Regions from separate parts of the Homo sapiens genome. Here regions 2 and 3 are each linked to region 1. Evidence: fine-mapped expression QTL. A gene starts in region 1. Each other region holds a variant in brackets. All regions are shown on one strand. Distances are between the middles of the regions.

Region 1 (10,499 bases):
ATTTTGCTTTGGGTTTTTTAAGACATCTTCATCTTATTTTTATTTATTTATTTATTTTTTGAGATGGAGTTTCGCTCTTGTTGCCCAGGCTGGAGCGTAATGGTGCGATCTCGGCTCATTGCAACCTCCACCTCCCGGGTTCAAGCAATTCTCCTGCCTTAGTCTCCCCAGTAGCTGGAACTACAGGTGTGCGCCACCATGCCCGGCTAATTTTTTTGTATTTTTAGTAGAGACGGGGTTTCACCATGTTGGCCATGCTGGTCTTGAACTCCTGACCTCAGGTGATCCACCCGCCTCGGCCTCCCAAAGTTCTGGGAGTGTAAGTGTGAGCCACCATGTCTGGCCAGACATCTTCATCTTAATGTTGACAATTTCTATAGCATCCATGACTTATTCACAAAGATGACAAATTATGAATAACATGAACCACATGTAAACAAGAGGGTCTTATTTTTGCTGGATACTTAAAATATAAGCCATAAAGTCTCATATACGCAGACAGACAGACAGACACACACACACACACACTTTCTGTCTCTCTGTTACTTAGTATACAACTGAGAGAGAAACATTTATATTATTTTTAAAAAATAGAAAATAGGGAAGGGTGTGGTGGCTCACATCTGTAATTCCAGAACTTTGAGAGGCAGAGGCGGGCGGATCACGAGGTCAGGAGTTCCAGACCAACCTGACCAACATGGTGAAACTCCATCTCTACTAAAAATACAAAAATTAGCCAGGTGTAGTGGCAGGCACCTGTAATCCCAACTACTCAAGAGGCTGAGACAGGAGAATCGCTTGAACCCAGAAGGCAGAGGTTGCAGTGAGCTGAGATCACCCCACTGCACTCTAGCCTGGGCAACAGAGCAAGACTTCCCCTCAAAAAAAAAAAAAAAAAAAAAAAAAGACACGGATGTTCTAGCTAGAAAAGCATAAATTATGATTCTGACTTTTCCTTCCCAGAAACATCTCAAAATCTCTTTACACTAGAGATATTTTATCTGGAAAAACAGGTAACAAAAAATTGTACTAAAAAATTCCTTCCAATCTCATTAAGAGTTCTATACAGAACTATGAATAATTTTAAAAATTAATCTCCAAATTAAGCCTAAGATTCTCCAACATGTATCAAGAAACACTACATACACTTGGAACTAAAGCTCCTTAAGTCAAATTATCTTAAGCTCCTGATTAACAACAATCTACTGAAAAATCACCACTCAGTGTGTGGGGTTTTGTTTGTTTGTTTTTGACAGAGTCTTGCTCTGTCGCCCAGGCTGGAGTACAGTGGCACGATCTCGGCTCACTGCAACCTCCGCCTCCCGGGTTCAATCTATTCTCCTGTCTCAGCCTCCCCAGCAGCTGGGATTACAGGCGCATGGCACAAGACATGGCTAATTTTTTTGTATTTTTAGTAGAGACGGGGTTTCACCATATTGGTCAGTCTGGTCTCGAACTCCTGACCTCAGGTGATCCACCTGCCTCGGCCTCCCAAAGTGCTGAGATTACAGGCGTGAACCACTGCACCTGGACCTTAGTGTGCTTTGATATTCTACAAACAGTAGGAATAGGGATATGTCAGACACATAATACAGTGAATTATCATTCCCAACCTTACTCATTTCCTCACCATAATAACCCTTCTACTTTCTAATCATATTAAAAAGAACAAAAGTGTAAAAATACATCATACACTGACAAGCATTCATAAGGCTAATCAAAGTCACATTTACCACCTATATGTGAAATTCTTTTGAAGATGTCTACTCATGTGAATGCTTGATACAGGGCATTAAAATGACCTACCCTAGCTTATGGCAGTATCTCACAAAAAGGTCCCTTTCAAAGAGCAACACAAGAGAAAAGATCTGAAGGGGCTTTCATGCAAATTATCTTATCCTTTTTTCCCCACCTTTTATGTTCACTATTTTAAAATCTCAAATAGATTTACTGTTTTAAGTAAAACAATTGTAGTATTTTTCTTAGATTATTGCAGTATTCCTGTACCCCCTATTTCTTGCCAAATATTTCTGACATTAATTTATACTTATATGGCGAGAACAATAAAAAACATTAACAAGAGTGTAGATATATGTGTGTGTGTATCTTTATATATTAATATATACACACACACACACAGGGACAAATAAGGAGACAATAAGTGTCTATTTTAAAGCAGGGACATTGCTTTTTATTCCAATCATTCAATGCCCATCATGCAAAAAAGGTGGAAAACATTAGATTTTAAGACTTACGACAGAGAAATGACTTAGTTGTAGCAACCATTCATATCAAATAACCTTACAAAACATAAGCAAGAGAAAGACGCTGTGAAAGGGCAATACAGCATTTCACAGCTTCTGCTCCCTTACTCCACCCAGTCTTCTCGGCTCAATGGCTGTTCACAGCATCCACAAATATTAGCCCATTTTTTTAAAAAAGGATGTGGGGGGAGGTACCAACGTAGGGCTTGCTCCATCAAAATCAACATATACAGAAATACTTCAAGTGAAAAATTGGATTCCTTTCTGATTTTAAAATATATACCAGCCTTCAATTTCTTTTAGGAGATTCCCCCCTTCTGAGCAATCCAAACAATGATCATTAATGAACACGAAAGAAATCACCCTAAATACAGATTACTCTTCTGCTTTATTAAAAACTGCAATTTGCAACTGCTAATTATTTTGTGAAACTGTGTCCTAAAAGACACCCATTAGAGATTAAAAGCTAGCTAATGCCTTAAAACCAAATCAGAATTTTTTAAGTAAAAGCTTTTACTATATATTCAACATCACTATGACACAGTCAACAGGAAATTTTCCTGATTATGAGACTGGACCCCGCAGCAATTAAGCCGCCCTGCTGCAGCAAAAAAAAAAAAAAAAGCAAACACTCCTGTGGCAAAAAGGGAGGGATGACATTATCACTGGTATGAAAGGCCCAAGCACTGTCTCCTCCGCCCTAGCCTCGAAAAGAAATTCACACAAAATAACCCACCCCCCCAACAAAAACAGAATTGCCAAAAATGGCACAAATTGTTTGTTTGGCCTTTAAAACCTTATGAAACTCCAAGACTGTGTGCTTAAAGGAGAGATGGGAATATCAGTAATATCTCTATTTGTCCGGACTGCCACTTAAGGAAAGAGGGAGGGGGGACCTTGGCATGACATCGCCCATTGAGAACGAGACCACAAATCTGGTCCTCCTCTTCAAAGGCGTATTTTCTTAACCAAAAGACTGATATAAATTGGGCCCAAACCCCAAAAGAAAATTTCCTGCCCTCTTCCCAAGGAGTTTCTTGCTAAGTCACTGAAGAAAGGTAGCATAACATATAAAGCTATGGTACCTTGCTCTCTCCTACTAAATACGGAAAACCTCTTCCCCTCTACTGCTACGTTTAGAGGTGCAGAGTCAAAATGTGTCGACCACCTCAAAGGCATTTTCTCATGTGGGAGGCTAAAGAGGGTAAATATGCAGAGGCACTGCGTTTCCCAAAGGGGCAGGGAGATGAGATTAGACGAAGGGGAATGGCAGGGAGCCTCGAAGCTGAATGTTAACAGCATCAAAAGGCAACTCCCGACCGAGGAGCCGGTGGCAGAAAGAAAATCCTGCCAGATTCGGTGGGTGGATGCTGCGGATTGCTCGGTGGGCCGGGCTGCCTCTCCTCGGCGGGTGCTGAGGCTGGACCGCCGCACCGGGGGCCAGGGAGACGGTGGGCCACCCTCCGCTGGTCAACCCCATCTTAAGGACCAGTCGGGGACGGAATGCCTGGAAGGCCCTATGAGTGCCCCGGCGGCGCGGGGCTGAGCCGGTCCCCGAGCCGATAACTGAGGGTGGGGTGGGGACTGCGGTGCTCGTCTCCGCGGCCGGGGAGAGCAGGGCCGATCCTTTTCCCCAAGATCAGAGAGCTACCTGGTCCCCACGCCCTTCCAACCCAAGAATACTTTTCTTGCTAAGTCACCGAGGGAGGAGGGCGATCCCTTCTTGGGGAGGGCCGCGGGGCGGGGGTCGCAGAGGCGCCGGCAGCCCCCAAAGCCGGGCCCGGGAGGAGAGGAGCGAGGGCAGCGCCCTCCCCGGACAGTCCCCCTCCTCCGGGTCTCTCACTCAACGGCCGTCGCGGCCGCCATTTTGAGAGCGAGGAGAGAAGAAGAAGGAGGAGGCGGCGGCGGAGGCAGGGGGAGGGGAGAATGGGAGGGAGGGGACCGGCGCAGCCACATCGTCAGGCCGCCGGGTCCGGCCTGCAGCCGCCCGGGCGCGGTGGAGGAGACAGAGGGGAGGGCGCAGACCCGCGCCGCCTTACCGGAGCGCTGCACCGCCGCCTCCGCAGGGCCTCTTCCGTCCTTCACTCCCATCCACCGGCGGGGGAGGGGGAGGGAGAGGGGAGGGAGGAAGGAGGGAGGGAGGGAAGGAGGGGGGAGGATGGCGCGCTGGGCCCGGGCCCGGGGAGGGGGAGGGGAGGGGAGCGGGCGGGCTCCTCAGCCGTTCCGGGGCTCGAGTCCAAGCTCGGCGCTCGCGGTTTCTCTCGCTCGCGCCCGAGCGCTCCCCTCCTTCTCCTTCTCGCTCCCTAGACTCCCGTGTCGCTGCTCCTCCGCTCGCTCACTCGCTCTCCCGGCCGCCGGACTCCGCCGCCGCCCCGCCGCTCCAGCTCCGTCTGTCACAGGAGCTGCCCCAACGCCCTGACGTCACCGCGCCGCCGCCGCCGCCGCCGCCGCCGCCCCAGACCCGCCAGGAAGAGGGAGGGGCGGGCGCCGGGAGCGGAGGAGGGGCTGCGGCGCATGCGCCGGGCTGGGCCGGGCCGGGGCCGCGCTGCCTTCTAGCGGGCGGGCGGCTGAGCGGTGCCACCCGGCCGGCGGGCGAGTCTGCGTGCGAGGTGCTGCTTCTCACGCTCCGCACGCTTCTGTTAACCTTGGGAGAGGCTCTTTTTTCCCAGCCCCTCGTCTGACTTGCGGCCCCTTCTGAACTCTGGCTCTGCTCACCTCGCTGCCCTGCTTTTGCGCTCATGCGGCCGACCGCGGCGTCCCGTTGGCACCGTGTGTGGCGGGCCCCGGGAGGCGCGAGAGGCAGCGGGGCCCGGCCACCTACCGCCCCTTTCTGCCTCCGGCCTCCGAGATGATTTCCCAGTTTGGGGGGGAATGAGGGAGGGGAGTAGGCTGGCTGGCTTGGGAGGAGGAGCTGTTGAGGTTAAAAGGCAGATGGAATGCTGTCATTGTCTTGATTTGTATTATAGATTCTTAATTGGGAGGACTCGCTTTTGGATATGATTCAGCTATTCTTCTCCTTAGTCACACACAGACATCAGAGTCTCTCCAGGTCTCGAAACGGATGCCCAAAGAAAGGCCTGGAACTGTATCCCTATAAGGGATGTCTGTGTGTGTTTGCTAAATTATGGATTGAAATATTGATGACAAGAGTCGTCTTGGGGATTTGTAGTTAATTTATTCCACACAGATACCTATGATTTTTCTTTTCTTTTCCTTTTTTTTTTTTTTTTTTTTTTGAGACGGAGTCTCGCTGTGTCGCCCAGGCTGGAGTGCAGTGGCGCGATCTCGGCTCACTGCAACCTCCGCCTCCCGAGTTCAAGCGATTCTCTGCATCAGCCTCCCGAGTAGCTGGGAGTACAGGCACTTGCCACCACGCCCAGCTAATTTTTGTTTTTTGTTTTTGTTTTTGTTTTTGAGATGGAGTCTCGCTCTGTCGCCCAGGCTGGAGTGCAGTGGTGCAATCTCCACTCACTGCAGGCTCCGCCTCCCGGGTTCACGCCATTCTCCTGCCTCAGCCTCCCGAGTAGCTGGGACCACAGGCGCCCACCACCACGCCCGGCTAATTTTTTTGGTATTTTTAGTAGAGACGGGGTTTCATCATGTTGGCCCGGATGGTCTCGATCCCTTGACCTCGTGATCCGCCCGCCTCTGCCTCCCAAAGTGCTGGGATTACAGGCGTGAGCCACCGTGCTCAGCCGACCCTTGATTTTTAAAAAGCGAGATTTGGGGTTCTGAATAATTCAATATGGGCTATTATTTTAATAACAGGTTTAAATGAGATTATCTTATCATTCATTTGTATTGTCCAAGGAAGCTTTTTTCTTGAAACAGGCTTAAGCTTATGTGTACTGATTTTATTGCGTCACTTTATGTAGGTAAATATATATATATATACTGCATTTGAGAAGCAGCAGAGTTAACGAAAGAGACAACTTAGGTGTAAATCCTGGACCCCGCACTTGCCAGAAGCGCGACCTGGGGCAAATTACCATACCTCTCTTTGGCCTCAGTTTCTCAATAAAAGACACCTAATAACTAACCCGGCTTTTGTGAGAATTACAGAGGAGGTGCAGCCTGTGTAAAGTATCTTAGTTTCGTGGGGACTTATAGGTAACTCATGTAAACATTACTGTTGCTTGATACCAAAACAAGTTTCCTTTGTTCAAGAAAGGTTATCTCTGCCAGGCACAGGTTGCTAACCCCTGTAATCCCAGCAATTTGGGAGGCCAAGGCAGGGATGGGGAGGTTGGGAGGGGGGCCGTGGATCACCTGAGCCAAGGAGTTGGAGACCAGCAGGTGCAACATAGTGAAACCTCATCTCTACAAAAAAATTTTAAAAATTAGCTAAGTGTGGTGGCACATGCCTGTAGTCCCAGCTACTGGGGAGGATGAGATGGGAGGATTGCTCAAGCCCTGGAGATCCAGACCAGCCAGGGCAACAAAGCAAGATCTCATCTCTAAAAACAAAAAAAGAAAAGAAAAACAGCCGGGCGCGGGGACTCACGCCTGCAATCCCAACACTTTGGGAGGCTCAGACAGGTGGATCACTTGAGGTCAGGATTTCGAGACCGGCCTGGTCAACATGGCGAAATGCCATCTCTACTAAAAACACAAAAATTAGCCGGGCATGGTGGTGTGTGCCTGTAATCCCAGCTACTTTCGGGACTGAGGCATGAGAATCGCTTGAAGCCGGGAGGCGGAGGTTGCAGTGAGTCAAGATCATGCCACTGCACTCCAGCCTAGGTAACAAAGCCAGAGTCTGTCTCAAAAAAACAAACAAAAACAAAAACTTTTAATTAGCTGGGTGTGGTGGCGCATGCCTGGAGTCCTAGCTACCCAGGAGGCAGAGGCAGGCGGATCGCTTGAGCCCAGGAGGTCCAGGCTGCAGTGAATCATGGTCATGCTACTGCACTGTATCCTGGGCAGACTGGACCCCCATCTCTAAAAATAGGCTGGGATCAGTCGTTCAAGGCTGTAATCCCAGCACTTTGGGGTGCCAAGGTGGGAGAATCTCTTGAGCCCAGGAGTTGGAGAGCAGCTTGGGCAAGACAGGGAAACCCCGTCTCTACGGAAAAATAGAGAAATTAGCCAGATGTGGTGGTTTGGGCCTGTGGTTCCACCCATTGGGAGGCTGAGATGGGAGGATCGTTTGAGCCCAGGAGGTGGAGGCTGCAGTGAACCGAGATCACACCACTGCACTCCAGCCTGGGTGACAGAGCAAGACCCTGTCTCAAAATAAAGTTAAATTAAATAAGTAAAATGAGTAAAAAAGAAAGATTGTCTCTATCCCCTAAGTGTTCAAAGGCAACATGAGCCAATTGCATGAAGGCCTTGGGTTTTTGCCTCATGAAGATTTGCCAGAGATGAATCAAATTGTCTTAGAAAGTCTTGTCCAGTTTTACATTTCTGGGATTTTCAGATAAGGACAATAAAATGAGGCATAGAGCTTTGGTCTGTGCTATTGCTTGGGTTCAATAACAGTCAATAAACATGCAATAAATTAGCATCCCTTTGTTCTAAGAATCCACCCTCCCTTCATTTTTACCTTTTAAAATATTTATTATGGTCTGATATCATGCTACTTAATATTTAATTAGCTGAGTAAATCAGTTCCTTATTTTTTAAACGAATGCTCTAAAAGTAAATAAAATTGCCCAGAAAGAGATCAGAAACACTTTTATAAACACTGACTTCATACAAATAGGTAGCACTAACTCCTATAAACCTTGAGCTCACAGACTCATATTTAGAAAGATTTAAAATCTATATGATGTAATTATGCACTAAATTTATATCAAATTTTATTTCTATAGTGGTCCTTCAAAAAACAATAAACTCCCTTTGTGGTAAGGTATAAAACTTTCTCCCTGGATTATGATTTTTCTGAACAGAAAACGGTTACGTGCTTACCTTGATGTGAAGTGATGTGTTACGGTTCTATGCACCTTCCCTTCAGTTAGCTGCTAGGATGATAGATCTATCTTTTTTTTTTTTTTTTTTTTTTGAGATGGAGTCTCACTCTGTCGCCCAGGCTGGAGTGCAATGGCATGATCTCGGCTCACTGCAACCTCTGCCTCCCAGGTTCAAGCGATTCTCCTGTCTCAGCCTCCATAGTAGCTGGGATTACAGGCGTGCGCTATCACGCCCGGCTAATTTTTTTTTGTATTTGAGTAGAGACGGGGTTTTACCATGTTGCCCAGGCTGGTCTCGAACTCCTGAGCTCAAGCAATCCACCTACCTCAGCCTCCCAAAGTGCTAGGATTACAGGCGTGAGCCACCACGCCCGGCCTGATAGATCTATCTTAATAAACACTTGTCTATTGAAAATGTAGAATTAGGACATCTGTGCTATCAATCAGAATTTGTAAGGACTTATACAGAACTTACTATATCCATCCAGGAAACGTTTAATAATGGACATTTCAGATGATGTTTCTTGAAAAAAAATAAGTATAAACATCCATTTTACTTACCACAATCCAAGAATCTCCCTGTTCATTTTAATTGCAGATCTTTATTTTTCCAGTAGACATTTTCAAAATGGAAACATAAACATTTATTTATTGATTTATTTATTGAGACGGACTCTCACTGTGTCACCCAGCCTGGAGTGCAATGGCACAATCTCAGTTCACTGCATCCTCTGCCTCCCGGGTGAAGCGATTCTCCTGCCTCAGCCTCCTGAGAAGCTGAGATTACAGGCGCCCGTCACCATGCCCAGCTAAGTTTTGTATTTTTAGTAGAGATGGGGTTTCACCACGTTGGCCAGGCTGGTCTCGAACTCCTGACCTCAGGTGATCTGCCCACCTCAGCCTCTCAAAGTGCTGGGATTACAGGCGTGAGCCACCACGTCCAGCCTGGAAACATTTATTTCAATTGCTGCAGTAAAATTAGTGTCAGTTTAAACAATTCTGCAAATAAGCTGACTGGAAGAAACACTCCAAAAATACTTCTATTGGGAAAAGGACAAAAAGTCTTCTAAAGGTATCTCCAGAGCAAAAGTCTGTTTATGATAAGGGCAAATGTTAAAGTGTTGTTTTGAGAAATTAACTGTCCTCTATAATTTATAGGCAAATGTACATTGTTATGTGTGCAAATTTGATAGAAAGCAATTAGCAAGTTGTGAGAAGGGAGCTTTTGGGCATCCAAGTTATGTGAATCAAGGTCCCATTTAAAGGAGAATCACGACCCGCCTGTCATGCGACTCACTCTGGGAGATTATAGCTAGTTATTGTGTGTACCTGCATTTCCCCAAGGCATGGATATGTCAGCGAGGGCAAGTCCAACTAGACCCGTCCTTCCTCATCTCAGCATCATGACATCCACCTGTGTCATGGACACTGTGAGTCCATAAAAACAAATTAAAGGCTCTTAACAGAGTGAAACTCAGCCTGGACATAGAAGGAATATTTAAAAAGCAGCACTTGCCGGGCGTGGCGGCTCACGCCTGTAATCCCAGCACTTTGGGAGGCCGAGGCAGGCGGATCAGCTGAGACCAGAAGTTCGAGATCAGCCTGGCCAGTGTGGCAAAACCCATCTCTACTAAAAATACAAAAAAAAAAAATTACCCAGGTGTGGTAGCCCGAGCCTGTAGTTCCAGCTACTCAGGAGGCTGAGGCAGGAGAATCGCTTGAACCCGGGAGGTAGAGGTTGAGGTGAGCCGAGATCGCTTCACTCCAGCCTGGGCGATAGAGCGAAACTCAGTCTCAAAAAAATAACATTAATAAAATTAAATATATATACATATATATGTGTATATATATATACACAGACATGATCCTTAGAAACATATATATAGTATATATATACACATATATATGTTTCTAAGGATGTCTGTATATATATACACATATCTATGTTTCTGAGGATCATGCATGTATATATACACACATATATGTATATGTAACATACGTATATGCTACATACATGTAACTATGCGTATATGCTACATATATGTAACTGCTACATATATGTAACTATGTGTATATGTTACATATATGTAACTATGTGTATATGTTATATGCATGCTTATATGTTACATATATGTAACATGTATACGTTTGTGTATTTCTAAGAATCATATATATACATATGTGTATATATACATATATGTGTGTATGTTTCTCTATATATAGAGAGAAACATTCATATATATATGTATGTATGTTTCTAAGGATCATGTCAGCGAGTCAGGATTCCTGATCCAGAGACAATGGCCCTAATGGGATGGAGCCT
Region 2 (10,499 bases), 110 kb before region 1:
ATCTAGGCCATTGAGGGTCGGGGGCAAGGGTTGGTTACCTTCCTGGGAATACAGCGGCTTTTAGGGGTTAAGAGAACAGGCAGGTTTTTCAGGTCCACAGTGGTGCGTCAGGTTCCTTCTGCCCAGGGGAGGGCTCCCTGGAGTTGAGGCCCAGAGGGGGAGGAGGAGGAGGCTGGCAGCTGGGGAAGGAGTCTAGGGGCTTATGGGAGCTCCGCAACAGGATCTTGGATGGGATGTGGGGAGAGCAGCCTGAGGAACTCTGAACTGTCCTCAGGCCCTGAACGCCTGCCTCTGGCCTGGGTGGGACAGGAAGGAGGCAAACAGGTGCCTGGTCTGTAGGTTCTTCCATAGGCCGCCTGCCCGCCCCATTGCCTTTCCCTGAAGCCCTGGGCTCCCGGGACGGGTGATGCACCTTTTCGGACCCTACTTCCTGCTGGAGCCTCACTTGCTGAGGCCTTGGCTGGGGCGTGGCCTGGCCCTGGCACAGTCTTCTGAGTGAGATTGTGCCTGGCTTGGGCAGCACACAGGTCCTCTGGGAGGCCTAAGTTTCTTTTCTAGTTCCTCCTCTCTGCCGCCTTTGAGCTCCCGGCGCCTCCAGGCCGGGGCAAGGGTGTGCTTTGTCTCTTCACTAGCATCTGAGTTTGCGTGTATGCAGAGTGCTGTTGGGGCACGGCTCTCCCGCTCTGCAGAAGACCTCCTTTTCCCCTCCCCTAAAGCTCACATCCTCAGAGGTGCTCCTGGACTATGAGAGGAGGGAGTATTGGCCCAAGGGTGTAGAGGCCTTGGGGAGTGCTGTGACTGGGATAGTTCTGCTCCCCCCCCCCCGAGTAGAGGCTGAGGCCTGGACGAGGAGGCAGGTGCAGCCTACCTGTGGGTGCTGCCGGGCCCCTCGGGAGGGGGTGGGTGGGCTGCGCTGAGTGGGAGTGGGTCAGTGGGAGCGGGTCCATGGGAGCGGGTCGGCGGGAGCAGGTCGGTGGGAGCGGGTGGGTAGCCCGCGCTCAGTGGGAGTGACTCAAAAGCCATGGGCTTGGGCGTCTGACACTCCTGTTTTTTCTTTCCTTTTTTTTTTAAACTTAATCCCAAATGTGATAGTAACACCTGGTTTTTTCTTGCTCTGGGTTGGCTCCTCTTGCCTCTGTGACCTTGGGCAGCTGCTTCCTAGCCTTCTGGAGCCTCAGTTTCCTCAGGTGAGATGGGCTGGCACGGCGGTTTAGGGAGCTGCCGTGGGCTGGGCCTAGCGTGAGTCCTGGCTCTGTGGTAATCAGAGTGCAGGTGGTTGTCAACACTTCTCTGGGGTCACTGCCAGGCTGCCCTGCCCCACCCCTCTCTCCGGAGGGTTAGGGTGTATTTCAGGAGAGGGTAGGAGCAGAGGGGCTCTGTCTAGGCCTGGTCCTTCTCCTCTGGTCATTGTGTGAGACCCAGAACCTTCCATGGGGGCTGTGAAGCAGCCCAGGGTCTGCCTGATCCCTGGTCCTGGAGGGGAGGGGATGGAGTGAGAGCCTGGCTCCCGCCCACCCTGGGTAGGGTGGATGCTGGGGCAGCCCTTACTGGGCACTGGCAGCATGTCAGAGGCCCTGGGAAGGCGCCCTGGCCAGCTGGGCACCTCCTCCCCCGCCGTGCGGCCACTGGCCTCTTGCTGCCAGCTCTGTTCTCCCCTGGGAGAGACTTGGTTCCCTCCTGGCAGAGCCGGGGCTGCTGGGAAGGGAAGATGGAGCCTGCCAGCTTCTTGATGGAGCCTGGAGGCCAGGGGCACGGGTGCAGTTGTCCTCTGGGAAGCTGGGGGCCCATCCCCCTCCCTTCCACCAGAACCAGTGACTCCCAGGAAGGGGCTGGCAGCCAGGTCACCTGCAGGGGGCAGCAGGAGCCAGAGGTCCCAGCCAGGCCCTTGGCCCAGGGACAGTGGGGTGCTCAGTGTCTGGGACTGGTGGGCAGAGGCAGCCACCTTATGGCCTGGACCCGGGTCTGTGCCAGCTGTTGGCGGCAGCTGGCAGAAGCGGTCCTGTTCACCCCCACTGGGATGGGAGCGGAGGAGAGGACCCCCTTGCTGGGCCCTGCCCCTGCCAGCCAGTCTCCTAGGCCCTCAATCTTGAGGGGTCCAGGTACCCCAAATTCTGGGTTCTCCGATCCCCCTAGCGGCTTTGCCGGCAGTGACCCCCTCTCTAGGGGGCATAGGGAGGTGGGCCTGAGTGCTGATAGCAGCTCCCCCTGGGGTCCTGGGGCCACCGGGTTCTCCTGGCCCACAGCCGTCCTTCTGGCCGACCTTGAGCGGGATGCCAGGCAGGGGGAGTGTGCCCTTCCTGGGGCTGCCATGGCAGGCCTGGCCCCACTGAAACCCGAAGCCAGCCGGAGCTCCAGCCCCGGGCCGACTGGCTGCATTAGGGCAAGGGTAGCGGCAGAGGCTGGAACAAGGAACCCGGGCAATGCTGGGGCTGAGCTGGAGAGCTGGCTGCCTTGCTGCCACGGCCATCCTGAGACTCCAGAGCCGAGGGGAGGGCAGCTGCCAACTGCACCAGGTGAGCACCGGGACCTGGTGAGCCAGCCAGCTGCCTGCGGGGGAGATCGCTCAGCCTTCATCCAGGGGTGGGGAGACCTTCGGGGTTCCTAGGAGGAAGGATTAGGGTAAAACATGCTGTCCTGGGGAGAGGAGGCCCCTTGGGAGCCAGCTGCATTCCTTTGAAACGGGATAGGGAATAGGTACCCCCTGAGGGTCGTCTCCCTGGGCTGGGGAAGGAGAGTGGGAGCCGCGGCCACCTTGCCTTGTCGTCCCTCCTTTCTGTCCTCCCATTCCAGACATGCGAAAGAACACAGGCTGTCTCTGTCTAGGTATTTGACTCCCCACTTTTGGGATCTCATAGCTCAAAACTGCTGTTCTATATTGGGTGGGGGCCCTTCCTGCTTCTCCCCTTATTCCAGGGGCTTGGCAGCCAGCACAGCCTTTCTCAGGGACCCTGTGGGGGCAGTTCCTCCACCTGGCTGCCCTGCCTCTTGCTGTTTGCAAGCTGACCGACCACCGCCCCGGCTGTCTTTCTGCTCTGTCACTAGAGTCAGGCAGGTGTGTGGGGCTGCTCACGTGCGAGGGGATTGGGGGTGCCCTTCCTGGGGCGGTTGGATCCTGGAAGGGAGGTCTTTGTACATCCTCGTGGTTCCTGGGAGTCCACTGCAGGCTTGGAGAGGGTGGGGTGGAGAGCCATGACATGCACAGTTACTGAAGGTCCTCAGTGGCCAGAGTTGAGGGAGTGCCGCGGCGTAGGGTGCGGGCTGCAGGAGGGAGTCTGGGGCCCATTCTGACTTGGTTGACCTTAGGCCAGGCTCCGAGCCTTTCTGGGCTTCAAATACCCCTCTTTGGGGTAAGGGGGAAGAGACTCTGAGCTCTTAGAGGTCCTGTTTCTCGTTTGCTCGTGGGGATCCAGGGAAAGGGAGCGACTCTCTCCAGGCCCCCCGGTCTCTGCCTTTCCGTACTGGCCTCATCCCTTCCCTGAGGCTCCTGCTCCGTGTTTCTGGTGGGTCCGGATTGGGACCACACAGTTCTGGGAAAGGCACCTGTCCCCGCTCCTGAGAGCCGGGTGGGGAAGGGGAGGTGGGGTCTAGATGGGATGGGCAGAGCTGGGCGAGCTCTTCTTTCTGGAAGGGAACCCAGGCACTCCTCAGAGTTGGGACCGTTGAACTTCAAGCCAAGCCAGGCAGGTGAGCCTGGCCCATGGACAGATCCTGGGGGCCAAGGTCCTCATCTCCTAGATGGGTGCCCAGGCAGGCCCGTGTCTGCTGGAGGGTTACTGAGAGGCGATCCTTGGCTCCTCAGCGGAACAGGGGGTTCTCCTTTGTTCCACTGGTGCCTGGGTAGGAATGCAAGGTTTTGTCACCTGCTCCCCACCCTGGAGCATGTGGATTGGGTGCTGTCTTCAAATATTGGATGTAGCTAGAGGTTTGCAGTAAGTACTTTATTTGTTGCCTTTTTTGTTGAGCCTGGGCAAGATAGAAGGTGGTGGGTAGAGCTGCTGGTGAGGACGCCACCCTGGGTGCAGCCGAATGTCTCTGGGAATGAAAGGGGGAGGGAGTGTGATTCTGCCATTAAGGGTCATTTGGGCAGGCTGTGGAAAAGGTTTATTTCTCCTAGGCCTTGAAGGGTGAGTCAGTGTTTGCTGTACAGAATGGGATGTCAGGGGCAGCACAGACACAGAAGCACAGCGGTGGGAGGGCGGTGGGAGGGCTGTGGGCGGTACCAGGCTTGCATGGTGTGGTGTCCTTAGACCTCAGCAGGGAGCAGGCAGGAGCTGAGGCTGACTTCAGGTGGGTGCCTGAGAGCGCTGGCCTGAGAAGCTTGGTCTTGTAAGCAGTGGGCTTCCTAGGAGGGTTGCAGGTGGCACTGCTGAAATAGAGGAAATGCCTGCCCTAGGGCAGTGGCTGCAGAGGCCGGGTCCCGTGGGTGGGTTGGGAGATTTAGGGTGGGTGACTAGATAGAGCAGGTGCCAGTTTGAGGAGGAAGATGAGTTCTGTCCCTGCAAGACGAGGCTTCAGTGATGCCTCAGGGACAGCCACATGTTGATGCCTGGGAGGCAGCGGTCTCCTTGGTCCAAAAGGCTGGAGAGAGGACAGGATTGGCCGTGTGAGCCACGGGGCAGGAGTGTATGGGAGGGGGTGGGGTCAGAAACAGGAGAGGCTGGGCCTAGGCACTCCCCTGCAGCCCCCCTGCAGCCCAGGACCACAGCTCAGGAGGGATGGAAGAGGATGGAGCTGGAGAGGGAGGGGCAAGGGCACTGTGTGGGGTCAGAGAAGAGGAGAGGAAGAGGGGAACTGCTGCTGGGAAGCTAGGTGTGTTAGGGCCGGAGGAGACCCTCGGGCTTGGCTTGAAGGGTGGCTTTGGTGACCCTGGGGAGAGTGGTTTGGGACATGGGTTCAGGTGCAAGCCATACCACAGTGGGCCAGGGAACAGTGGCTGGGAGGGGCGGCTGGGTGTGGAAGTGGCCTGCAGGTGCACGGAGGGCGAGGCGCGACCGTGAGGCTGGGACTCTCGAGGGCATGCAGATGCCTTTCCAGAAGGCACGTGTCCCCGTGTGGGGTCAGGCGGACAGCCCCGCCGACCAGCGAGGCTGCCTGATTCTGACCCGTTCTTGTCACCCGCAGAGCTGCCATCAGTCATGCTCTTAAACGGGGACTGCCCAGAGAGCCTGAAGAAGGAGGCGGCGGCGGCCGAGCCACCCAGGGAAAATGGGCTTGACGAGGCCGGCCCGGGAGATGAGACCACCGGCCAGGAAGTCATTGTCATTCAGGACACGGGCTTTTCTGTGAAGATCCTCGCCCCTGGGATCGAGCCCTTCTCCCTGCAGGTAAGATGGAGGAACGGGTGCTGGGGGCCAGGCCTGAGCCTGCTGGGGAGGGTGAGCTGGAAAGCTCAGCCTTGCTCGTGCTCCTACCGGCCCCATTTTGTGGCAGGAAACTGAGGATCCCGTGCCCTCCCTAGAGTCACTCAGCTAGCGTGGTGGACGTGGGAATCGAGCCCAGGGTCAGGTCGTTGCCCCATTGCTAGAGGACAGCAACCAGCTGGGCCTGCCAGCCCTATGTGGGGAGGGGAGTGATAGTGGCTGGGAAGTGTTGGCATCCCAGGACTCCCCAGCCTCTTGCTCTGTGCCCTCAGGCAAGTCACCTCTCTCTGGGCCGTGATTTTACCATCTGCCAGAGGGGAGGGTAGTATTGGGTTATCTCCAAGGGCAGAGCCAGCGTGGAGGTCTTGCAAGCCGGTGACTCAGTGGGGAACGAGACAGGGTCGTCGTATGTCTCGGCACCCGCAGGCTTGGGCCCCAGAGCACCCCTTCTGGAAGGGGAAAGCCATTTGCCCCAGGCACCTTAGCACTGGGCAAGGCCGGGGGCGAGCCTGCCGTCTTCTGTCCCGCTGTTCTTCATCTCCCTTCTCTGCTCGGGCATTGCTCTGGGTCTGCAGGCCGAGTCGGTGGGCCAGGCTCCAGGCTGCACACACAGGGCATGGCATGTGTGGACATGGCCTGGATTTAAAAGCCAGAAAGTGGGATAGCCGATATTCGAGTATTTGGGGCATTTATTCTGGGGACCAAGGTACTTTGGGCTGGGGACAAGGGGATATTGTCCTTGCTGTCCGCTACGTGGCCTCTCAC[C/T]GGGGCGGTTGGGGCCTTCTCTCCCCGCTACGTGCTCTCTCACCGGGGTGGGCGGGGCCTTCTCCCTGCAGGTGTCCCCCCAGGAGATGGTGCAGGAGATTCACCAGGTGCTCATGGACCGGGAGGACACGTGTCACCGCACCTGCTTCTCACTGCACCTGGATGGCAACGTGCTGGACCACTTCTCGGAGCTGCGCAGCGTCGAGGGGCTGCAGGAGGGCTCTGTGCTGCGTGTGGTGGAAGGTTGGTCTGGAAGTTGGACAGCCTGCCCGGGGGAGGGCCCACGGAGGCAGAGGCAGGCAGCACCATCCATGCCAGGGTCCCTGTGTCACGGATGAGCTCATGGAGGCAGGATTGGAGCACAGATCTGCTTCTCAGGCCAGCACACCTATATCTGCCAACTTCACGGCCCATGGGTTAAAGAACAGAGCCGTGGGCTGGGCATGGTGGCTCACGCCTGTAATCCCAACACTTTGGGAGGCCAAGGCGTGTGGATCACCTGAGGTCAGGAGTTGGAGACTTGCCTGGCCAACATGGTGAAACCCCATCTCTACTAAAAATACAAAAAGTTAGCTGCGCGTGGTGGCAGGTGCCTGTAATCCCAGCTACTCGGGAGGCTGAGGCAGGAGAATCACTTGAACCTGGGAGGCAGAGGTTGCAGTGTGCCCGGATCGTGCCACTGCACTCCAGCATGGGCAACAAGAACGAAACTCCGTCTCAAAAAAAAAAACAAAACAAAAGAACAGAGCCGTGATTCTAAAAAAAAAAAATCAGGCAGTACCATCCCAGGGCGTGAAGTCAGCGCAGTTCAGTTCTGTAGAGATCCATGAGAAGTCCCAAACGTTTCCTAGCCCTAGAGTGGGGAGGTCGGGCACGGGGAGGTGCCATCCGGTTGGTCTGTGGCCTCGAGTTTTCTGGGTAGAAGCTGCTTGGGTTCCACCCCAGGGCCTGTCCGCCTGTTGAGAGCAGTGACGGAAAAGGTCTGTAGCTCAACAGCGCCCACAGTTGATCACGGAACCTCTCCCCTCCACCAAAAGAACTGCCATTAAAATCCCATGAAACCACATAGGGGCAGTGTTGACATTGGGGGCCTTGGAAAGTCCTCAGGCCACCCCTACATGAGGCTGCCTCGGGAGAGCAGGGCAAGGCTGTGGTGTGGAAGTCCCACAGCTCCAAAAGCCCTGCCCAGCCGACACACTGGCGCACAAAAGCAGGCAGCCTTGTGGACGCCTGAGGCCTGTGTGTGCTTCAGAGGCATTTGGCAGAAAGTTCTTTATAAACAAAGATCCCTGCTCACCAGTAGGCAGAGTGTGTGTGTGTGTGTGTTTGTGGTGTCAAAACCAGAACTCCAGCTTATGTGTTCACAGTGGAATTTGAAAACGGAAACCTAAAGTTGAAAATTAAAACCACTGTGTTAGCACCTCCAAAACCTGTTTTGTGCTGGGCAGGTTGTTCAGGGTGCAGGGCCCTGGTAACGCCATACCCTCCCTGCCTTCCTGACAGAGCCGTACACGGTGCGTGAGGCCCGCATCCACGTGCGCCATGTCCGAGACCTGCTCAAGAGCCTGGACCCATCCGATGCCTTCAACGGGGTTGACTGCAACTCCTTGTCCTTCCTGAGTGTCTTCACCGACGGCGACCTGGGAGGTGCGGGAGGCACTGGGGCCGGGGATTGGGCCAAAGGGCGGGGAGCACGGAGGTGGGGGGCTGGAGAAGGGGCCGAGGGGCCTGGGCCTGAGGCACCCGGACCACGGCCATCAGGAGGTAGGGAGACAGCTGGCCCTGGGTGGCCCTGTGCTGACCACCAGCCTCGGGTCCCTCAGACAGCGGGAAGCGGAAGAAGGGCTTGGAGATGGACCCCATCGACTGCACACCACCCGAGTACATCCTGCCAGGGAGCCGGGAGCGGCCACTGTGTCCCCTGCAGCCCCAAAACCGTGACTGGAAGGTAGGATCCTGGGGGAGGGAGGAAGAGGGTCCCTGGCGGGGTGGAGGCCCCACACCAGAGGCCTGGCCCCTCAGACTCGGCCGCTCCCGAAGCCCTTGCAGTGCCTGAAAGTACTCACCATGAGCGGATGGAACCCGCCCCCGGGGAACCGGAAGATGCACGGGGACCTCATGTACCTGTTTGTGATCACAGCCGAGGACCGGCAAGTCAGCATCACCGCGTCCACACGGGGCTTTTACCTGAATCAGTGAGTCCCTGCCAGCCCACCACACCCCCCTGCCGTGCCAGCCGTCCTGGGTCTGGGCAGACACCTGGGCCCCCGCTCAGTGCCCGCCCTCTCCCTGCAGGTCCACAGCTTATCACTTCAACCCCAAGCCCGCCAGCCCCCGCTTCCTAAGCCATTCCCTAGTGGAGCTGCTCAACCAGATCAGCCCGACCTTCAAGAAGAACTTCGCTGTGCTGCAGAAGAAAAGGTAGTGCCTTTGTCCCCTCCCGCCTTGTCTCATGGCACACGGGGGCATGGGGTGAGCCGGCCCACCTGCACTCCAGTGCTTCTGTCTGAAGAAACCGCCCTGGGCCCCCAGTGTTGGAGTCCCCGCTCTAGGGAGCTGTCGGCCAGTGCCGAGACAGCAGCCGCAGGAGAGGCGCCCGTGCACTTCCATCTGGCTCCAGGGCAGTGTCTCAGGGTGGGAGATGCCGGAGCAGGCGGGGGCCTCAGAAAAGGGGCCCGTGGAAGGGCTCTGAGCTTGGTGGGCTGCCCCATCTCCCCCTCCCCTGCCTGCCACAGGGTCCAGCGCCACCCGTTCGAGAGGATCGCCACCCCATTCCAGGTGTACAGCTGGACAGCCCCCCAGGCGGAGCATGCCATGGATTGCGTGCGTGCAGAGGACGCCTACACCTCGAGGCTGGGCTATGAGGAGCACATTCCTGGACAGGTGCCTGCAACCTGGCCCTGCCCTCGCTGGGCACCCCTGCCCTCCTGGGTGCTGGGCTGGTTCCGTGCACTTCCCTGGAGGCCCCATGCTTGACTTCATTTGGGAGTCTGGGGCTCTTCTCAGGAAGGTAGAAGGAGCGACTTCCGGGAGCAGGTCACAGGGCACAGGCTGAGCTCGTTTTTCCCTCCCTGATCTCTCTGCAGACCCGAGACTGGAATGAGGAGCTGCAGACGACGAGGGAGCTGCCTCGCAAGAACCTGCCTGAGCGGCTGCTCCGAGAAAGGGCCATATTCAAGGTGCCTGCAGCCTCTGCTGACCGGCAGTCTGAGGCCCGCTGTCCACCTGCTGACGGGTTTTCTCATGGAGAGGAGGAAAGCAAGGGAGGCAGGGGCAGCCCTAACCCTGTCAGGTTCCCCGAAGGCCAGTCAGCGTCTCCCGCAGGGTCTGCTAGCCTTCCGCCTCCCAGCAGACCATCCCAGTACCTTTCTCTGGCCTCTCTGAGGCTTTGAGTCCCTGGAAGGAGCGGGCCCTACTTCCCATAGGGACTGAGTGTCCAGGGCCGTGCAGCTTCCCGCCCTCTGTGACTGCTGCGGGGCTTTTGCCTGGGCGAGCACTGGCCGGCCATGGCCCTTCTAGGGCGGGTGCTCATTTGCATAACACTTTTAGTTTGCTGGGGTTTAAAAGTTATTAGTGCTGGGTTACTAAGAGAAATGAGGAAAAGCAGTTGCTTAAGAAAAAAAAAATCTCAGGCCGGCTTCAGTAGCTCATGCCTGTAATCCCAGCACTTTGGGAGGCCGAGGCGGGCGGATCACAAGGTCAGGAGTTCAAGACCAGCCTGGCCAATATGGGGAAACCCCATCTCCACTAAAAATACAAAAATTAGCTGGGTGTGGTGGCGCATGCCTGTAGTCCCAGCTACTCGGGAGTCTGAGACAGGAGAATTGCTTGAACCCAATAGGCGGAGGTTGCAGTGAGCCGAAATTGCATCACTGCACTCCAGCCTGGGCGACAGAACAAGACTACGTCTCAAAAAAAAAAAAAAGAAATCTCAGCCAGGCACAGTGGCTCACGCCTGTAATCCTAGCACTTTGGGAGGCTGAGACAGGCAGATCACTTGAGCCCAGGAGTTGGAAACCAGCCTACGAAACATGGTGAAACCTCGTCTCTGCAAAAAATACAAAAGATTAGCCAGGCATGGTGGCATGTGCCTGTAGTCCCAGCTACTCGGGAGGCTGGAGTGGGAGGATGGCCTGAGCCAGGGGAAGTCGAGGCTTCAGTGAGCTCGGATCTCGTGCCGCTGCATTCCAGCCTTGGCAACAGCGTGATACCCTGTCTGAAAACAACCAACCTCCCATAGTTATACTGCCTAGAGATGATAATTGTAGAAACAAAAACTCATTTCTCGGGTACCGACTTCACCAGAGATGGTGCCAAGTGCGTTATAGAGACTATTTCCTATAATATATTGGACAACTTGTAAAGGTCAATACC
Region 3 (9,265 bases), 82 kb before region 1:
TACTATCCTTGTTCTTAGGTGGTTCATGCTAAAATACTTGGGGGTAAAGTGTTACGATGTCTGCAAAGAACGCTCAAATGATTTCAGCAAAATATACACACATACATGAAGGAAAACCAACAAATGGTAACTAAGTGAAGGATATACAGGCATTCACTATATATCTATATATCCATCCATCCATCCATCCATCCATCCATCCATCCATCCAATCATCCAATCATCCATCCATCCACCCACCCACCCATCTATCTATCCATCCAATCATCCATCTAATCATCCATCTAATCATCCATCCATCCATCCATCCATCCAATCATCCATCCATCCATCCATCCAATCATCCATCCATCCATCCATCCAATCATCCATCCATCCATCCAATCATCCATCTATCCATCCAACCATCCAATCATCCATCTATCCATCCATCCAATCATCCATCCATCCATCCATCCAATCATTCATCCATCTAATCATCCATCCATTTAATCATCCATCCATCTATCCATCCATATTTCCCCTGTCGCAGCAGTTCTGTTCTTGCAATTTATCTTTAAGGACATGCCCAGAGATTTAGTTAGCAAAGATGTTCACAAAGCATTGTCTGTAGATCAGTGTAGAAGAGCATCTAACAACATAAGCAAGGATCACATACTTTCTAAATTAAAGGTTTGCTACAAAGCTACCTTAAGGGGCATGATACCATTTTTATAAAAAATAGCACATTCATCTACACATTAAAGAAAAAGGCTTAGAACTGCACAGTTGAACATGGTAGCTACTGTCCATGTACGCCTACTTTAATATATAATATTAAGATTACATACAACCAACAATTCAGTTCTTCAGTCTCACTAGCCACATTTCAAGAGTATAATAGCTGCATGTGGCTAGTAGCTACCACGCTGGATAGTGCAGTTATAGCACAGCACTGCAAAATTTTGTTTTGTTTTAAAAAGAGACAGCAACTCTGTTGCCCAGGCTGGAGTATAGTGGCATGATCACGGCTCACTAAAGCCTCAAATTCCTGGGTTCAAGTAATCCTCCTGCCTTAGCCTCCCAAGTAGCTAGGACTATAGGCATGCATCATCATGCATGACTAATTTTTAAACTTTTATTTTGGTAGAGACAGGGTCTTGTTATGTTGCTCAGGCTGGTCTCAAACTCCTGGGCTCCTCCTGCCTTGGCCTCCCAAAGTCCTGGGATTACAGGTGTGAGCCACTGTGCCTGGCCAAGAGTATGTTTTTCTTGTTTCTTTTCTTTTTTTTTCCTGGAGACAGAGTCTTACTTCACTGCCCAGGATGGAGGGCAATGGTGCGATCTCGGCTCACTGCAACCTCCGTCTCCCAGGTGCAAACGATTCTCAAGCCTCAGCCTCCCGAGTAGCTGGGATTACAGACGTGCGCCACCATGCCCGGGTTTTTTTTTTTTTTTTTTTGAGATGGTTTCACTCTTGTTGCCCAGGCTGGAGTACAATGGCGTGATCTTGGCTCACTGCAACCTCCGCCTCCCAGGTTAAAGTGATTTGCCTGCCTCAGCCTTCCCAAGTAGCTGGGATTACAGGCATGTGCCACCATGCCTGGCTAATTTTGTGTTTTTAGCAGCGATGGGGTTCCTCCATGTTGGTCAGGCTGGTCTCGAACTCCCAACCTCAGGTGATCCACCCATCTCGGCCTCCCAAAGTGCTGGGATTACAGGCGTGAGCCACCGCGCCTGGCCACGCCCGGCTAATTTTTGTAATTTTAGTAGAGACGGGGTTTCACCATGTTGGCCAGGCTGGTCCTGAACTCCTGACCTCAGGTGATCCACCTGCCTCAGCCTCCAAAAGTGCTGGGATTGCAGGAGTGAGCCACTGCGCCTGGCCTGCTTTATTTTAATTATATATCATCTTTTCTTAACAGCAACATGGTATAGCTGAACTCCGCTCAGAATACTACTAGAGGAGAGTTTCATTTTCTTTTTATTTATTTATTTATTTATTTTTTGAGGCGGAGTCTCGCTCTGTCGCCCAGGCTGGAGTACAGTGGTGCCATCTCCGGTCACTGCAAGCTCCGCCTCCCGGGTTCACGCCATTCTCCTGCCTCAGCCTCCCAAGTAGCTGGGACTACAGGCACCCGCCAGGATGCCCGGCTAATTTTTTGTATTTTTAGTAGAGACGGGGTTTCACCATGTTAGCCAGGATGGTCTCAATCTCCTGACCTCGTGATCTGCTCGCCTCGGCCTCCCAAAGTGCGGGGATTACAGGCGTGAGCCACCGTGCCCGGCCGAGAGTTTCATTTTCTAATCAGTTCTTGAAGATGCTTCCACATATGTCTGTCATATCCTACAGAGAGACAATCACTTCAAGGTATCATTAGCACCTAAAAAATCTCTAAACAAATGTGGATGCCAAATTATAAAAACTACTACTAAACAAACATCCACAGATCTCCTTGGAACTCCTTTAGGCACATAGGAATGTCCACAATCCCTTACTAGTATTGACATATCTTTCTATGGAAATACAGATGCTCCTAAATAAGCCAAATAAACTAGATCATGTGAGCAAGGAGGTATAACAGTTAAAAGGATTCATATAAATAAAGTGAAACAGAGAAACAAACATCTTCAACAGTGAACAGGTCTCTAAGAATGCTGCTTTTTCTCCGTAAGAGATATTACACATTTGTTTTATTTTATTTTTTTTGAGATGGAGTCTCACTCTGTCGCCCAGGCTGGAGTGCAGTGGCACAATCTCGGCTCACTGCAAGCTCCACCTCCCGGGTTCACGCCATTCTCCTGCCTCAGCCTCCCGAGTAGCTGGGACTACAGGCGCCCGCCACCACGCCCAGCTAATTTTTTGTATTTTTTGGTAGAGACGGGATTTCCCCAAGTTAGCTCGATCTCCTGACCTCGTGATCCACCCGCCTCGGCCTCCCAAAGTGCTGGGATTACAGGCGTAAGCCACCGCGCCCGGCCGAGATATTACACAATTTTTAAAGATACAGTGAGCTAGCAGCATCTCCCCCTCAAACACCGACTGGCTCTACAGATTCTTTATAGAATCTGCATTCTAGAGAAATAACTTTCACATCACTATAACAACAACAAAAGCTAAAGGAAAACTATCTTTATAAAGAAGTTATTTTAAAGCCCAGAATAATTCAGATTATTTAAGATATCATAAAGCATTAATCCAAAAAGGTATAAACAGTGAAGATGCAAAAGAAATGGTAAGATTATGCAAACTTACGAGGGTCATAAGGCACATGCCAGTACTGACATCCCACATCTTAATAGTCTTGTCTCTGGATCCAGACAGCAAGAATGGCCCAGGTTTACCACTTTTTTTAGTCTACAGAAAACATAATAAAAATTAAGTTTCCCACACAAGAAGTTAGGTATGGACTTTAAATGGCTTCTATCTAATAATGATATATATTTCCAATTTTTTTGTTGCATTTTGGTTTTTTGTTTGTTTTCAGACGGAGTCTGGCTCTGTCACCCAGGCTGGAGTACCGTGGTGCAATCTTGGGTCACTGCAACCTCCGCCTCCCGGGTTCAAGCGAATCTCCTGCCTCAGCCTCCCAAGTAGATGTGATTACAGGCACGCACCACCACATGTGGCTAATTTTTGTATTTTTAGTAGAGATGGGGTTTTGCCATGTTGGGCAGGCTGGTCTTGAACTCCTAACCTCAGATGATCGATC[G/A]GCCCACCTCGGCCTCCCAAAGTGCTGGAATTACAGGCGTGAGCCACTGCGCCCAGCCCAATTTGTTTTTATCTGTTGAAATACACAAGTCTTTCACACCATACCTATGCTACACAGGAAGGACTCAGATAATGTAAGAACAGAAGTCTCTATTTAGGTTAGGACTCAGTTTTCATAAAACCAACAGATAATAAATTTACTTTTCAAGATTTCTGTAATCACTATTTAATTTAACTTTTACAAATCCAACCAAAACCAAATTTACTTATTTATTTTTTTGATCTGGATTAGGGAATATTTATTTATTTCAAGACAGGGTCTCATTCTGTCACCCAGGCTGGAGTGCAGTGGAACAATCATAGCTCACTGCAGCTTTGAACTCCTGGGATCAAGCAATCTTCCTGTCTCAGTCTCCCTAGTGGCTGGGACTACAGGAGTGTACCACCACACCTAGCTAAGTTTTTGAAAATTTTTTCCGTCATTAGTATAGTGGTGAGTTTAAAAAAAAAAAAAAAGTTTTCTGTAGAGACGGGGTCTCGCTATGTTGCTCAAACTCCTGGGCTCAAGTGATCCTCCTGCCTTGACTTCCCAAAGTGCTGGGATTACAGGCGTGAGCCACCACACCAGAATCAAATTTATGACATACAGCATGTAACCACCACCAGAGGGCAGTAAACAGAATCTCAAAATGCAATGGGCCAATCAAAATAAAGAGAACTCACAAGAGAAGATTCATTTAGAAAAATAAGTGGGATGGGGGTAGAGGGAGAGGAAACTGCCTCCTTTGTTTATTGACATGTAGTTTTAAAAATACATGATAGGAATGCCTCTGTCAAAATCAATGTGAAGCCAGGCACAGTGGCTCACACCTGTAATCCCAGAACTTTGGGAAGCTGAGGTGGTCGGATCACTTGAGGCCATGAGTTTGAGAGCAGCCTGGCCAACATGGCAAAACCTTGTTTCTACTAAAAATATAAAAATTAGCTGGCAGGGTGGTACATGCATCCGTGGTCCCAGCTACTCAGGAGGCTGAGGCAGGAGAATCGCCTGAACCTGGGAGGCGGAGGTTGCAGTGAGCCGAGATCACGCTACTGTACTCCAGCCTGGGCAACAGAGTGAGACTGTCTCAAAAACAAACAAAAGTTTTAGACCATTCATTTTCATTCATTTATTAGAAACAGGGATCTTGCTATGTTGTCCCAGGCTGAACTTTAACTTCTGGACACAAGTGATCCTCTTGCCTCAGCCTCCTGAGTAGCTAGGACTATAGCCATGTGCCGCTGTACCTTGTAATTTTTAACATATTAATAATAAAGACCAAAACCATAAAGATCACAAAGAAATGCGTTAAAACTCCAGGCTCAGCTAGTACTTTTAAATGATCAAGAACATCAGAGGCTGCCATATGGATTAGTCTTCATTTAAAAAAACATTTATACTATCACATCTGGAATTAATTTTAAAAAATAAATACTGAACTGCATTTTACCATAAATTTATAAATAAAATCATTATCTTCATTAATGAAGGCTATTTTTCTGACAGAAAACTTTAACCTCTCCCTCAGGTTTTGTTTTACATTGAGATGATCTCATAACACTGATTTTTCTGATAAATTTTAATTCTTTAGGAGAATACCCATCACGTATCAAATCAAGGATAGGCTGACAGCAATAATCATCACTGGTTAAATAATGTAAACACATCAGCAAGCTGTGAAGAGTAGAGAATTTCAAGATTCAGAATTGCTGGATGCAGATTTTTAAATGCATTAACAGCCCTGAAACAGGGAATTAGCAAAGTTATCTAAGGACTTCAGATATCAGCAATAAAACCATGAAGACATTTGTATATACAGTACCTCAGATCCTGTTGCTTCAGAGATGGAGGAATATGAGCTTTCTGGAGCCCAGGAAATGCATTCTACCACATGCTCATGCTCTCGGAGCTCAGCCTTGCATTCCTTTGTTGCTACGACCCATACACGCACAGTCTGGTCATTGGAACAGCTGGCTATCAGAGTGCCATCTTGATTTGGCCGTACCATACGTACCCATTCTCTGTGTCCTGTGAATGTCTTCACACAGTAGCTGTCAATATAAATAATAACTTACACTGTGAATGACAATCATCAGGACACTTCCCAGAAGTGATATAAAAATATGTACTGGGATGAAGAGAATGGTACCAAGTTAGAGATGCAAGTCGACAGAATAAATGTACAATCCTGGTTAATTAAAGTAGGAACAATAAGCTAACAGACATATCATTAAGGAGCTAATAAAATCAACATCTAGAAGATAAAATATGTATAAGAAATAAAATCTTTCAAAACTAAATGCACACTTAAAAGTATTTCCAGCCATATTGGAAAAAAGCTATGCTCTACTAATCTGAGTAAAACTAGTAACTTTGTACTACAAAAATCAAGTGTAATTCTATGCACAACCAAATTCAGCCTAACAGAGGTATACCAGCACAAAGATTATTTACTTTTTGTTTTTTTTTTTTGAGACGGAGTCTCGCTCTGTCGCCCAGGCTGGAGTGCAGTGGCGCGATCTCGGCTCACTGCAGGCTCCACCTCCCAGGTTCACGCCATTCTCCTGCCTCAGCCTCCCGAGTAGCTGGGACTACAGGCGCCCGCCACCACGCCCGGCTAATTTTTTGTATTTTTAGTAGAGACGGGGTTTCATCGTGTTAGCCAGGACGGTCTCGATCTCCTGACCTCATGATCCGCCCGCCTCTGCCTCCCAAAGTGCTGGGATTACAGGCGTGAGCCACCGCGCCCGGCCAAAGATTATTTACACTTTAATTTAAACCCACAGAGAGATCACCTAAAAGAAGACCACAGAGGAAATAAGCCATTACACAGAAATGCTTCTCAAGGACATAGAGTCTCTCCTTACAATGTCTCTGTGCTCCTTTTTGGGAGACATGTACAGATCAAACTTAGTTTTAAAGTATATTTAATATGACTGTCATAATGATCATTCCGGGTTAAAGTCGAAGTGACTGCAACACCAGAACACAATTTTGTTTTTTATAAATATGTCTTTAAGCTGATGCCTTTTCTTTTTTTTTGAGACGGAGTCTCACTCTTGTTGCCCAGGCTAGAGTGCAATGGCACGATCTCGGCTCACTGCAACCTCCACCTCCCAGGTTCAAGTGATTCTCCTGTCTCAGCCTCCCAAGTAGCTGGGAATACAGGTGTGCGCCACCACACCCGGCTAATTTTTGTATTTTTAGTAGAGATGGGGTTTCATCATGTTGGCCAGGCTGGTCTTCAATTCCTGACCAGGTGATCTGCCCACCTTGGCCTCCCAAAGCGCTGGGATGACAGGTGTGAGCCACTGCACCTGGCCGCTGATGCCTTTTCAACTAAACTTACTTACCCAGTTTGCACTTCCCACATTTTTATAGTTTTATCCCTTGAGGCAGACACTATATGATCTCCATTGGGCATGATGGCTACTGAAGAAACATTGTGGTCATGGCCTAAAACACATAACAGCAATATATTATGAAGTAATATACCACCAAGAGCAATGAAACATCAATTGACCATGGGATTTTACCATGGGGTTTCACTATGTCAAAGCAAGTTCTAAATACACTGGATTTTATACAAATTGGATAAGAAACCTGGATTTACACGATAAAGTTAAAAAAATCAGTAAAACAACAACCCACAAGGAAATAGTCAACTCCATTTAGGATTAAATTTCAACCTGTACAAATGGTTTAAAAACAAAAGGCATCACGATTATCAACATTTGAATATATTCATATACTTACCTCAGTGAGTCTGAATGTTTACATATGAACGCTAGGGAAACATTTTTTTTTTTTTTTTTTTTTTTTTTTGTGAGGCAAGGACTTGCTCTGTTACCCAGGCTAAAGTGCAGTGGTGCAATCATAGCTCACTGTAGCCTTGAACTCCTGGGCTCAAGAGCTCTTCCCGCCTCAGCCTGTCGGGTAGCTGGAACTACACAGGTGTGTACCACCACATCTGGTACCACCACACCCACAACTATTTTATTTTTTGTAGAGACAAGGTCTCCATATTTTGCTCACACTGGTCTCGAACTCCTGTCCTCAAGCAATCCTTCCTGCCTTGGCCTCCAAAAGTGCTGAGATTATAGGTGTGAGCCACTGTGCCTAGCTTCTAGGTTGATATTCTAAGATATAAAAAAGATAAAGCAAATGGATACAAAAAATGGGGAATTGGTTCTCTGTTTAAAATGGTGGGCCAGGCGCAGTGGTTCATGCCTGTAATCCCAGCACTTTGGGAGGCCGAGGCGGGCGGATCACCTGAGGTCAGGAGTTCAAGACCAGCCTGGCCAATATGGTTAAACCCTGTTTCTACTAAAAATAAAAAAGTTAGCCGGGTGTGGTGGTGCTTGCCTGTATTGCCAGCTACTTTGGAGGCTGAGGTGGGAGAATCATTTGAACCTGGGAGGTGGAGGTTGCAGTGAGCAAAGATTGTGCCACTGTACTCCAGCTTGGGTGACAAAGCAAGAGGCCATCTCCAGAAAAAAAAAAAAAAAAAAAAAGGTGGTGTTGGGGGTAAAAAAAAAAAATGCATTAGAAAGAACTCTTTTTAAAGTTACAGCTAGAAGATACAGGCAACTTAAAGAAAAATAAATGATAGACCTTACGTGGCTCACGCCTATAATTCCAGCACTTTGGGAGGCTGAGGCAGATCAGGAGGTCAGGAGTTCGAGACCAGCTTGACCAACATGGTGAAACCCCGTCTCTACTAAAAATACAAAAATTAGACGGGCGTGGTGGCGCGTGCCTATAATCCTAGATACTCAGGAGGCTGAGGCAGGAGAATCACTTAAACCTGGGAGGCGGAGGTTGCAGTGAGCCAAGATTGTGCCACTGCACTCCAGCCTGGGCGACAGAGTGAGACACAGTCTCAAAAAAAAAACAACCAAAAAACAACAACAAAAAAACAGTGTTCATGCGTGGAATTCCTGTAATTATAAACTTCCCCAATGCATTTAATTTGGGACAGAGAAAACACAACCTTCAAATTATGCCCTCTAGGTAAACACAGTTTACTCATGTGTTAACGTGTTCCTTGTACAAAATCCCAACATTCAAATGTCATCATGTATAAAGAAACAACAAAAATCCCTAAGTAATGAGCATCTCCTATGTGGCAGGTACTACACCAAGATGATTTATCTTATGACTTCATCTTATCCTCATGACAACTCTATGACTCTGGTATTATTACCTCTGTTTTGCAGATGAAAGAGGTTTAAATTTTCTAATACCGTAAGTAGACAAGTAGGAATTTGAACCCAGGTGTCTGACTCCAAAGCAAATTACTCTCTTTCCACAAAACATACTGCCTCAGAAAACAGTTCCCACAACAAGACCCGGGAAATAATGAACGAGGGCATGGGGTCTGTGCGCTCAGCTCATTTCACTTAAGTGAGCAAGAGAATCTGGGCTCGTTTTCACTCGACCTACTCTCTCTGGACTTCAGTTTCCCAACTAACAAAAATTAAAACACAAACAAAACCATTTTTAACTCAAATACAGATAAATGACCTGGCAGT

Evidence for each region.
Region 2: its variant is fine-mapped to the expression of PAFAH1B1 in whole blood (TOPMed, PIP above 0.99).
Region 3: its variant is fine-mapped to the expression of PAFAH1B1 in whole blood (INTERVAL, PIP 0.90).

What each region holds. Positions count from the first base shown.
Region 1 is chr17:2,587,811-2,598,309 of GRCh38, reverse strand. PAFAH1B1 (platelet activating factor acetylhydrolase 1b regulatory subunit 1) reads right to left here and starts at 4,656. Exons shown (of 11, transcript NM_000430.4): 1 at 4,304-4,656. It also overlaps the pseudogene EIF4A1P9. RefSeq lists silencers at 3,808-3,857, 3,918-3,977, 4,388-4,617, 4,668-4,887 and an enhancer at 4,722-5,450.
Region 2 is chr17:2,699,187-2,709,685 of GRCh38, reverse strand. CLUH (CLUH binding protein of NUMT mRNA) reads left to right here. Exons shown (of 26, transcript NM_001366661.1): 2 at 5,122-5,324; 3 at 6,197-6,368; 4 at 7,629-7,772; 5 at 7,949-8,073; 6 at 8,166-8,320; 7 at 8,421-8,546; 8 at 8,861-9,008; 9 at 9,212-9,304. Among named protein-coding and RNA genes, the nearest start is that of CLUH, 7.3 kb to the left of the region's middle. RefSeq lists enhancers at 621-820, 2,037-2,933, 8,972-9,472. The variant C/T (reference allele first, on the strand shown) is at 6,126.
Region 3 is chr17:2,670,577-2,679,841 of GRCh38, reverse strand. It overlaps PAFAH1B1 (platelet activating factor acetylhydrolase 1b regulatory subunit 1), which reads right to left. Exons shown (of 11, transcript NM_000430.4): 7 at 7,085-7,187; 8 at 5,554-5,782; 9 at 3,236-3,337. Among named protein-coding and RNA genes, the nearest start is that of MIR6776, 18 kb to the left of the region's middle. The variant G/A (reference allele first, on the strand shown) is at 3,693.